2 separate regions of the Homo sapiens genome follow, and region 2 is linked to region 1. Evidence: fine-mapped expression QTL. A gene starts in region 1. The other region holds a variant in brackets. All regions are shown on one strand. Distances are between the middles of the regions.

Region 1 (4,393 bases):
CAAGGAATTTGGTTTTTACTCCAAAGAGAAAGAGGAAGCCAGGGAAGAGTTTTGAGCGGAAGAGTGACCTGGCCTGACTCCTGTTTCTAAAGGATCAGCCTGGCTATTGAGTGGAGGACAAGTGGGGATGGCGGACACCGAGAGGCCCGCTAGGAGATGCTGGCCTTCCCCACCACCCGTCATCCCGCACAGGCCATCGGCCCGGTAGCAGCATCCGGGACTCTCCACCCCCGGGCTTTTGCAGCAGGTTCTCAGGCAGCAGGAGGTGCTGGGAATTAACACCCCCAGGGAACAGCCCTCAGCCAATGACAAATGGAGTTGAAGAGAAGACCGCAGCTTCCCCACCTCCAGGTGGGACAATCCCAAAGTGTGCCCCACAGTGCCGCCCCAGGATCCCTAGCAGGACTGCACCCCAGTTGCCCACAGCTGTCACCTGCTTGGTGACGTACCCCGTGTGCGGTCCTTCTCTCCTCTACCACTGCTTCCTGGGACCACCTCCGGGAGAAAGCACTTGGGGGAAACTTGTCTGAAGATGTACTTCTGGGAGAACTTTAGCTAAGAGGGAAGTATGGCCATAAGTGACTCGAAGGTGGCTCAGATGGTGGTTGGCATCACACATAGTAAGAAGGGATTCTGGCTACATTAGGAAGGGATTTACAGCCGAGCAGGAGGTGAGGTCGGCAGGCTCGGGGCACCTGTCTTCACCTCCCAAGCCAGGTGGCCAGGCCTGAAGGCACTCAGCCTCCAGAAGCCCACAAGGCAGGACGGTGCCCTGACCACAAGCCCTGGGCGCCGGGCCGCCAGCCCGTGTCCTGCAGGGCTGAGGGGCTGAGGCCTTCTGAGTTAATGAGGTCCCCGGCAGAAGCACACCCCGCTGAAAATGACAAACGAACAGCATTACAGGCCGTTCCCACAATTACTATCAGTTGGCTGTAATATAAATATGCAAATTCCCTGGGCTTGAACTTTAACACCCTCGGTAGAGACCATTCATCTCTTTAAAGTATTAATTTAAGTTGTAACAGGGCCCATACATCACCGCGTGTCATTTTGAAAACAAATATTAATCAATTTTACCCTCGGAATTGCTACAGCGGAGGCGGCCCCCACGGCTGCGACTGCGGCACCGGAAGGCTGCAGCGAGAGATTTACATATTCATCCGAGCTTAAGGAAGCCGCGATAATGCAGGTACAGCCCGAAACCCACGCCCCCAGACCTTATCTGCGCGCCCCGCCGGCCCGCGGCTGCTTCTGCATGCGCCGCGCAGTGACTTGCAAATGAAACCCGCAGACCGCTGTCTGGATAACCTTGAACGCCACCGAGACAGGAGGCGAGGCGGCCTTCCAACTTCTCCTTTCCCAGAAATCAAAAAGTATTGAGAAAGGCTAGGATCTCCCTCTCCAAACGGGAGAAACAGCTCTGGCCTCCTTGGAGGTCCTGAGCAAGACAGGCTGGTCCCTGAACCCAGCTTACTTTTCCACCAGCCTTAAGAACCAGGACACCAGAGTGGCAGGTCCTGAAATGACGCGGGGGACTGGAGGTGGTGGTCTTCTGGGGACAGAAAAGGGCTGTGGAGTCATATAGCCCTGGCTTCCAAAACAGAGTCCGCACATACATGCCATGGACCTTCGCATAGATTGATTTAATTTCTTGGTTACATTAATGGAGAAATGTGCCCAGATATTAAAGATATCAACTCAAAGAGTCATTGGCAGGCTTAGAAATTATCTATGAAAAGCACCTATCACAGAAATGGGTATATAGTAAGGGCTGGGATGACATTATCAACAATTATTATTATTTTACTCAGTTATCTTCTGGGGTGACCATTCCCCTCTCCTCAACTGCACCCCCTTTGATCTTTCTACCCTTGCATCTGTAGTGGGTTTGAGGGACAGGACCTCCTGCTCCCACCCTGCCTACTGCCACAGTCTTAGTCTAACAGAATCTGCTGCCCCCTGCCTGAAGATCTGCCACTTCCTTTACAAGAAGACAGGACATCCTGGAAAGAAATGCAAGCCAGGTTGAAAGGTTAATAGCTCCCATTCCCCAAGGTGCTGACCACTCCCTGCTTCCCCTAGGGAGATACCTCCATCCTCAGCCGGAGACAGCACGCCTCCAGCCTCCTCTCGAATCAGGGCTTGCAGGGGCACAAAGCTGCTGCCATTCTCTGGTACTGGGGAGCGTCCACGTCAAGCCAGCAGAGGACACGTTGCACCTGCACAGGTGCATGAGAGATGCTCCTTCCATCCCAGAGCCATCCTACACTGGCCTGCACACCCTCGTCAGCATCCACTGCGTTGTATGCATGTACACATGCTGTACACACGGGATGCTGGCTCACTGTGTGGCTGACCTCCACATTGCAGCCCAGAAAACCTCGCAGCCCAGAAAACCCCACCTCCCTTCATTGGCCCATCAGCAATGTTGGAACTGGACTTCCATGACGAACTCTATGCATAGAACGGTGCACAGTCGAAGGGTTCTCCCCCGGAATGGTGATGCCAACCAGTGAACATCGTCCACCACCTCCTGGTAATGCTGAGTATCGGCCAATGTCAAACATTCACTGGGACAGCCGCAGATCCTGGCTCAAGTGAGGAAGAGAAATACCTCCCTATCCTTCTCCCTGGTGCTAGGGTGAGAGAAACTCATTTCATCACTGCTAAGCCTGGGACAGGAATCACTCAGGGATACAATAAAATCCCCACCCTGCAGGTATATCTGAACCAAATGAAGTATATACACCCATACATATCAAATCACATGTAAGCATGTGCACATGTATAGGCTGGACTATGTGTAAATGTGCACATTGCCCACGTGTGTTAAGCCATATGCAAGGATTTACATGTGTGTGTTCTACCACAGGTAAGTGTGCTTGTGTGTGTTAAGTTGCATGTGAGTGCACATGTGTGTTGATCCACATGTGAGTGTATGCACACGTGTATATTAAACCACATGTTGGTGTGTGCATTGCACATGTACATGTGTATTGAGCTACATGTAAGTGTGTGCATACATGTATGTTGACTCACACAGAAGCATTGCAGGCGCATATGTGTATATCGAACCACACGTAAATGTATGCACACATCATGTTGGTCTGTGACAGTCTGTGCAAAAAATGACATCCAGAGATAATGGCAGGAAATAAACACAGTGACTGTTTAACAAAGAAAAAAAAGAAAGAAAGAAATCCTGTTAAAAACACCCTATATTAAAATTTGTAATTAAAACATTCATCCCACAAATGTTTATGAAGGACCTAATTTTTTTTTCTTTTTAGAGACAGGGTATCACTATGTTGCACAAACTGTTTTCAAACTCCTGGACTCAGGTGATCCTCTGGCTTTGGCCTTCTAAAGTGCTGGGATTACAGGCATGAGCCACCATGCCCAGCTGGACCTAATATATTTCAGGGAAATGTCCAGTCAGGAGGCCAAAGGGCTGAGTTATGGGGAGTGGACCAGCCAGAGTTTTCACATAGTTCATTGAACCTAAGACACAGTTTTAGCCTATGAAATAAAGTACGCTGTAATAAATTCAGGAAATCCCAAGTCAAGTTCTTTCCTTCTGGCCTGCGACTTAGTAATCAACATGGTTATTCCCTGCTACTTAAGGAAAACCCATGGTTCTGAAGGACAGTGGTAGTATATAGGTAAAATCTTCCAGAAAACAAGTGTGTTGGTTTTTTTGTTTTTGTTTTTTGAGACAGGGTCTCGCTCTGTCACCCAGGCTGGAGTGCAATGGTGCAGTCATAGCTCACTGAAGCCTCGAACTCCTGGGCTCCAACTATCCTCCCACCTCAGCCTCCCAAGTAGCTAGAACTACAGGTGTGCACCACCAGGCATGGCTGGTTTTTTAAATATTTTTTGTACAGACAGTCTTGCTGTGTTACCCAGGCTGGTCTCAAACTCTTGATCTAATGCAATCCTCCTGCCTCAGCCTCCCAAACTGCTAGGATTATAGGCATGAGCCACTGTGCCTGGCTGTGGTTTTTTTTAAGTGCATAGATTTTTTTTCTAAGTGGAATGTTGTAATAAGTTGGCCTTTGCCAGGAAATCTATCTTGATGTCATATTTTCCACGCAGGCCCAGGGTACCTTGTCAGTAGATCTCTAATTTCCTGGAAGTCAATTACCCAATCAACTGAGCAGCAAAGACAGTGATCTTGGGCAAGTTACTCACTGTGCTTCCATTTCCTCACCTGTGAAACAGGGACAACACCAGGACATGTCTTTTAGCATTGTTGTAAGGATGAAACCAGTCCAAAACTGACCCTGATACATGATGAGCGCTCACTAATGTTAGCTATCATTAATCACCATTGTCATCACCATAACTCATCATTGCCAGCAGACATTTTATTTTATTAAGAATGCTTTTTTAA
Region 2 (4,393 bases), 48 kb before region 1:
CTCAGTCGTCCATCCAGTTGGCCCGAAATGAAATTCTATAATTATACAAAAGCCTGGGTCAGCGACCTTCTGATTGCAATATCTTGTCTCTTTTGTCCCTTCCTTCCACCACCTCACCCATGGGACAAAATTGCTTCAGCTCCTCCGGCAGCCTCCAGAATGAGGTGGTATTGGAAACTAGTGAGGCGTGGCCCTGTGGAGGTGTTCATAGCTTTGCAATAATTTACCCATTTTCATTTGTTTGATTTCATTAACACCTGGGTCTCAGGGGAGAGCCCAGTTGGGAAGGGGGAAAAAACAAGTGATTTCAGTTGAAATCGAGTGGTTATCATTGCCTTGTCTTGCAGTACCAAGGGAGTGTGGAATGCCAAGGGTGGAGTGCAGTCTGAGCAGGGTGATGAAGGAGGCCTCTCCTTAGAGGCAGCTTCTGCTAAAAAGTCTTGCCTTTCACATTCCTCAGTCCTCAACGGTCCCATCTCTCAAACTCACCCCATTGACACCAAGGGTATGCCCTATACCAGTGTCCCTTTCTCAACAAGCCAGCCTTACCGGCCCACTGGGCCAAGGCTGCTGGGGTGGCTACATTGAGACAGCATGGCTTAGCGGTTAAAGGCGTGGATGCCCAGAACTGGGCTCTAATCCGGCTCCAGCTCCTGCTTGCCTGGAGCCTTGAACATGGAGCTTCAACTCCACCAGCCTCATTTTCTCTCTTAAATAAAGTAGAGACGACAGCACGCACCTCATAAAGGTTGCTGCAAGGATTAGCTGGGATAATGAATGGGGAAGCACCCTGAATGCTGTGTCTGATACATTGTGAGTGCTCAGCGGAGTGAGAAAGAACAATAGTAATGGTTGCCATCTTTATGATTTTCTCTTCTTTTTCATCTTTACCGTCACCATCATCATCATCATCATCATCATCATCATCATCATCACCATCATCAATCATCACTCCCCACCTGGCCATCTCAGCCTCCACAGGCTCTCAGCAGAAAGAACCCAGTCTCAGAGGGAAGGCTGAAATGTTCTCTGGCAGTGAGCAGTCCCTGGGCCCAGCTTCCTCCAGAGAGAGACTTTGATCCAGTACAAGTCACACTACCGACCGGCATGGCACACCCTTTCTCAAAGGCGTAAGAATTCTGGTGACTTTGTGATTCCCAAGTGATGGGGAAGGACACTCCGTTGGTTAATGGCATCTGATGGTGAGAGAGTCCCTTGTGGCCAGGCTGGATCTGTTTATTCTCCCAGTTTTCTAGAGCTTCCCAGAGAGACCCCAGAGCAGGGAAGCAAAAGCCATTGCCATTTTAGCCCGTGGCAATAGAGGACAGTTGGAAACATCACTTTAGGGTGGAAGGGTCTTCCAGAGGCCCCTTGAATCAGCAACAAGGGGCATTAGAGTCTGCTTCCGTCCTCACAAGAGGTTGATCTGCCTGTAAAGGCAAGTCCTTCTATTGCCAGTAATAAGAATGTGCGGATGACTACAGCTGACATTTATTGAGCACTTACTGTGTGCAGTGTTCTAGGCACTGTCCATGTGTTAACTCATTTCACTCTTATGAGTGGCTGCTGTGTTTGTCCCCATTCTATTGCTGAGAAAGCTCAGGCAACAGGAAGTTAAGTCCCTTGGTCTGACAACCAAGAGTGGTCAAGCAAAGACTCAATCTGGTCTGCCTGACCCTAGAGTCCACGTCTTCCAGCTTTTGGACAGCTCCAGCCTTTACAAAATCCTTGAGTAACTTGAATTAAAATTTCTTCCTAGAACGTGTGCCCCTCGGTCCTGGTTCTGCATTTAGGGTTCTCTCTGCAGAACTCAACCCCCTCCAGTGAGACAGCCGTGTCCAGGGATGTGTTCAGCTCCCAGTGCCCCCACCCAGCTCCTCTGCTCCAGACTGCAAATGCCATTAATATTTAGCATTAGAAGGATCTGGTGAAGCCCATAAATCTGCATATGTTAAAAAAAAAAAAAAAAAAAA[AC/C]ACCACAGGGAATTCCTAAGTGGAGAGGGTGGGAGTAGGGGATGGGGGAGGTGGCCCTTAATTCTGCCTTGAGAAACCCCGCCTGAGGCCTCAGCACCTCCTTGTCCAGCCACCCACAAGTGAGGGTCAACTCAAGTGCCTGAGTGTCCTCTCTGCACCCTGAGAGACCGCTATTCCCAGCCATGCCCTGACCCCAGCCTCCAGCTTAGCAGCCAAGGCCCCCCACCCAGGACCATCACATGCCGGTTAGAAAGTCCCAGGCTCTGAGTGCAGTCAGATTTTTACAGCAAAACCACATTCCCTCGGCCCCAGCTTCCTTCTTTCTGTTTCTCTGAAGTAATAACTGGTCGCAGCCAGCGCCAGAGAAAAGCAGTCTCCCAATAGCTGAAAACATCTGAAACTGGTGATCAGCAGCTTCCTGATAAGATCCCAGAGTTGGGCAAGTGGACTCAAGCATGCGCGCTAAGAGGCAAAATGGCAGCATTTACTTGGTATATGACCTTCCAGGGACATTTGACTGGTAAGGGAAGAACGCCTCAAGTAAGCACACGTACAACTTCAGTAAATATACTGTGCATGGTCCCCTCCCAAGCGCTGGCAGGCTGCTGTGCATGCAGACAGCCCACCCCAATGGAAGAATCAGGGGAGAAGAGAAGCCGGACCCCAGAAGTATGCCCACATATAAGACCCCAATTCAAAGGTCAAACAGGGCACTTGTCTTTCAAGTTGCCCACTTGGCCCTCTTCCAAATATGCTTGCCTTCATTCTGTTCCCACTCTAAAACTTTTTAATAAACGTTCATTCCTGCTCTAAAGACTTTCCTCGGTCTCTCCTTCTGTCTTATGCCTACTCAGTGGGATTGTTTCTTCTGATGAGGCAAGAATTGAGGTTCTGCAGACCCATAGGGATTCGCCACGGGTAGCACTAACATCTCTCCATAGTTGTCTCCTTCTCCCCACCACCTCCCCCAGGGAGGCCTTCCCTGACCACCCTATCTACAGGTGGCCCCTTCCAGGCCCTCTCTGTCATATAATTCTGCTGGATTTTTCTCCATTGCATGGAAATTTCTTATGCATACATGAAGCCAGTGTCTCTTGTTCCTGTCTCTCTGTGCCTCAGTTTCCACATCTGTAAAATGGGGAAAATGCTACCTGCTGGGTTGTTTGGATAATGAAATGAGTTAATATAGGTACAGCACTCAGAACAGTGCCTGGCACACAGTAAGCATGATGAAAGTGGTGGCTTTATTCTTTATATTAATATCATTGCTCTCAGTATCTGGAGCAGCACCTCATACACAGTAGGCGCCCAATATGCATGTTTGAATAAATATACGAATGGATGGCTGAGCCACCATGCAGAGAGCCTGAAAAGTCCCACCCCGCCTGCTGCTGAAGACCCAGGCCACCCCCTCCTCATGGGCTATAATTACCCAATAACAAGAAACCCAGCCCCCTGGGCTTCATGCACAGCACATTTTCCAAAGATGAAAAGCTCATTCGTTAATAACTACATAGCAATATCTAAAATTTTGGTTGCATTGTGAGGCTGGGTGGCTTCCCCATTCACCAATAATGACAGACCACTTAAAAAATAAATAACACATATAATTTAAGCAACTAAAACAAATGGCAGTGTTGGCTTTCCCTGGGAAAACATTTTCACTATTTCCTCGAGGCGTCCCCATGGGTGCCCTTGCCTCGGCCTCCCCTGCAGAGATGCCTTCTCAGCAGGTGACCTGGGAGTGGAGCATGCAGAGCAGTGTCAGAGAGGAGACCTCACCCACAGCCTCCCAGAGTCCCTTCCCAGAAAAGCCTGGCCTTGTGCTCCCCAGAGGAGGGAAGGGGGAAAACTGCCTTCTCCCTCCACACCCATATTCACTATCTTTCCCCTCACCCTTTCCCCTGTGGGGAGACTTTGTAACCTCATATCCCTATGGGGCAGACAGGCAATGTACACGAGCAAAGCAGGTGGATGCATGAGGCAATAGGGATGGGTGGGGCTTGTGGCAAATTGAAGAGGAGACAGCCCTGCCACAGGGAACAAGCCTCACCAATGGTTGCTATGCAGAAATGCAGGCTCAGTTTTGCAAAATCTCCTGACATTTCAAAATAAGCCATCAATTTGAATTTAAAATGTCAGTCCCTTTAACAACCTCGCAGGTCCCTCATTCTGGGCCCTGCTGCCTCTAATTTCATCTCCGACTTCTCTACCCTTCACTCACCCTGCTAAGGCCACACTGGCTTCTTTACTGTTCTTGGACCAAGACAGGCACATTTCCACCCCAGGATATTTGCACTGAATATTCCCTCTGCCTAGAACATTCTTCTCCCAGATAAACTCATAGGTCAGGAGGCCAGTAGGGCTGGAATGCAGTAGGTGAGGAGGAATATAGCAGGAAAGAAGTTGGGGTGGAATC

Alleles and levels. Alleles are on the strand shown, and positions count from the first base shown. SD is a standard deviation of normalised expression in the study named.
With allele C in place of AC in region 2, the expression in iPS cells of the gene that starts at base 2,436 in region 1 is higher (moderate effect, 0.71 SD a copy in PhLiPS).

Evidence for each region. PIP is the estimated chance that this variant, and not a neighbour inherited with it, causes the effect.
Region 2: its variant is the best candidate, but not a certain one, in a credible set for the expression of LINC02128 in iPS cells (PhLiPS, PIP 0.51).

The regions. Positions count from the first base shown.
Region 1 is chr16:50,838,099-50,842,491 of GRCh38, reverse strand. LINC02128 (long intergenic non-protein coding RNA 2128) reads right to left here and starts at 2,436. Exons shown (of 3, transcript NR_184286.1): 1 at 2,091-2,436.
Region 2 is chr16:50,885,612-50,890,004 of GRCh38, reverse strand. All of the region lies in intron 1 of LINC02128 (long intergenic non-protein coding RNA 2128), which reads right to left. Among named protein-coding and RNA genes, the nearest start is that of LINC02128, 48 kb to the right of the region's middle. The variant AC/C (reference allele first, on the strand shown) is at 1,974.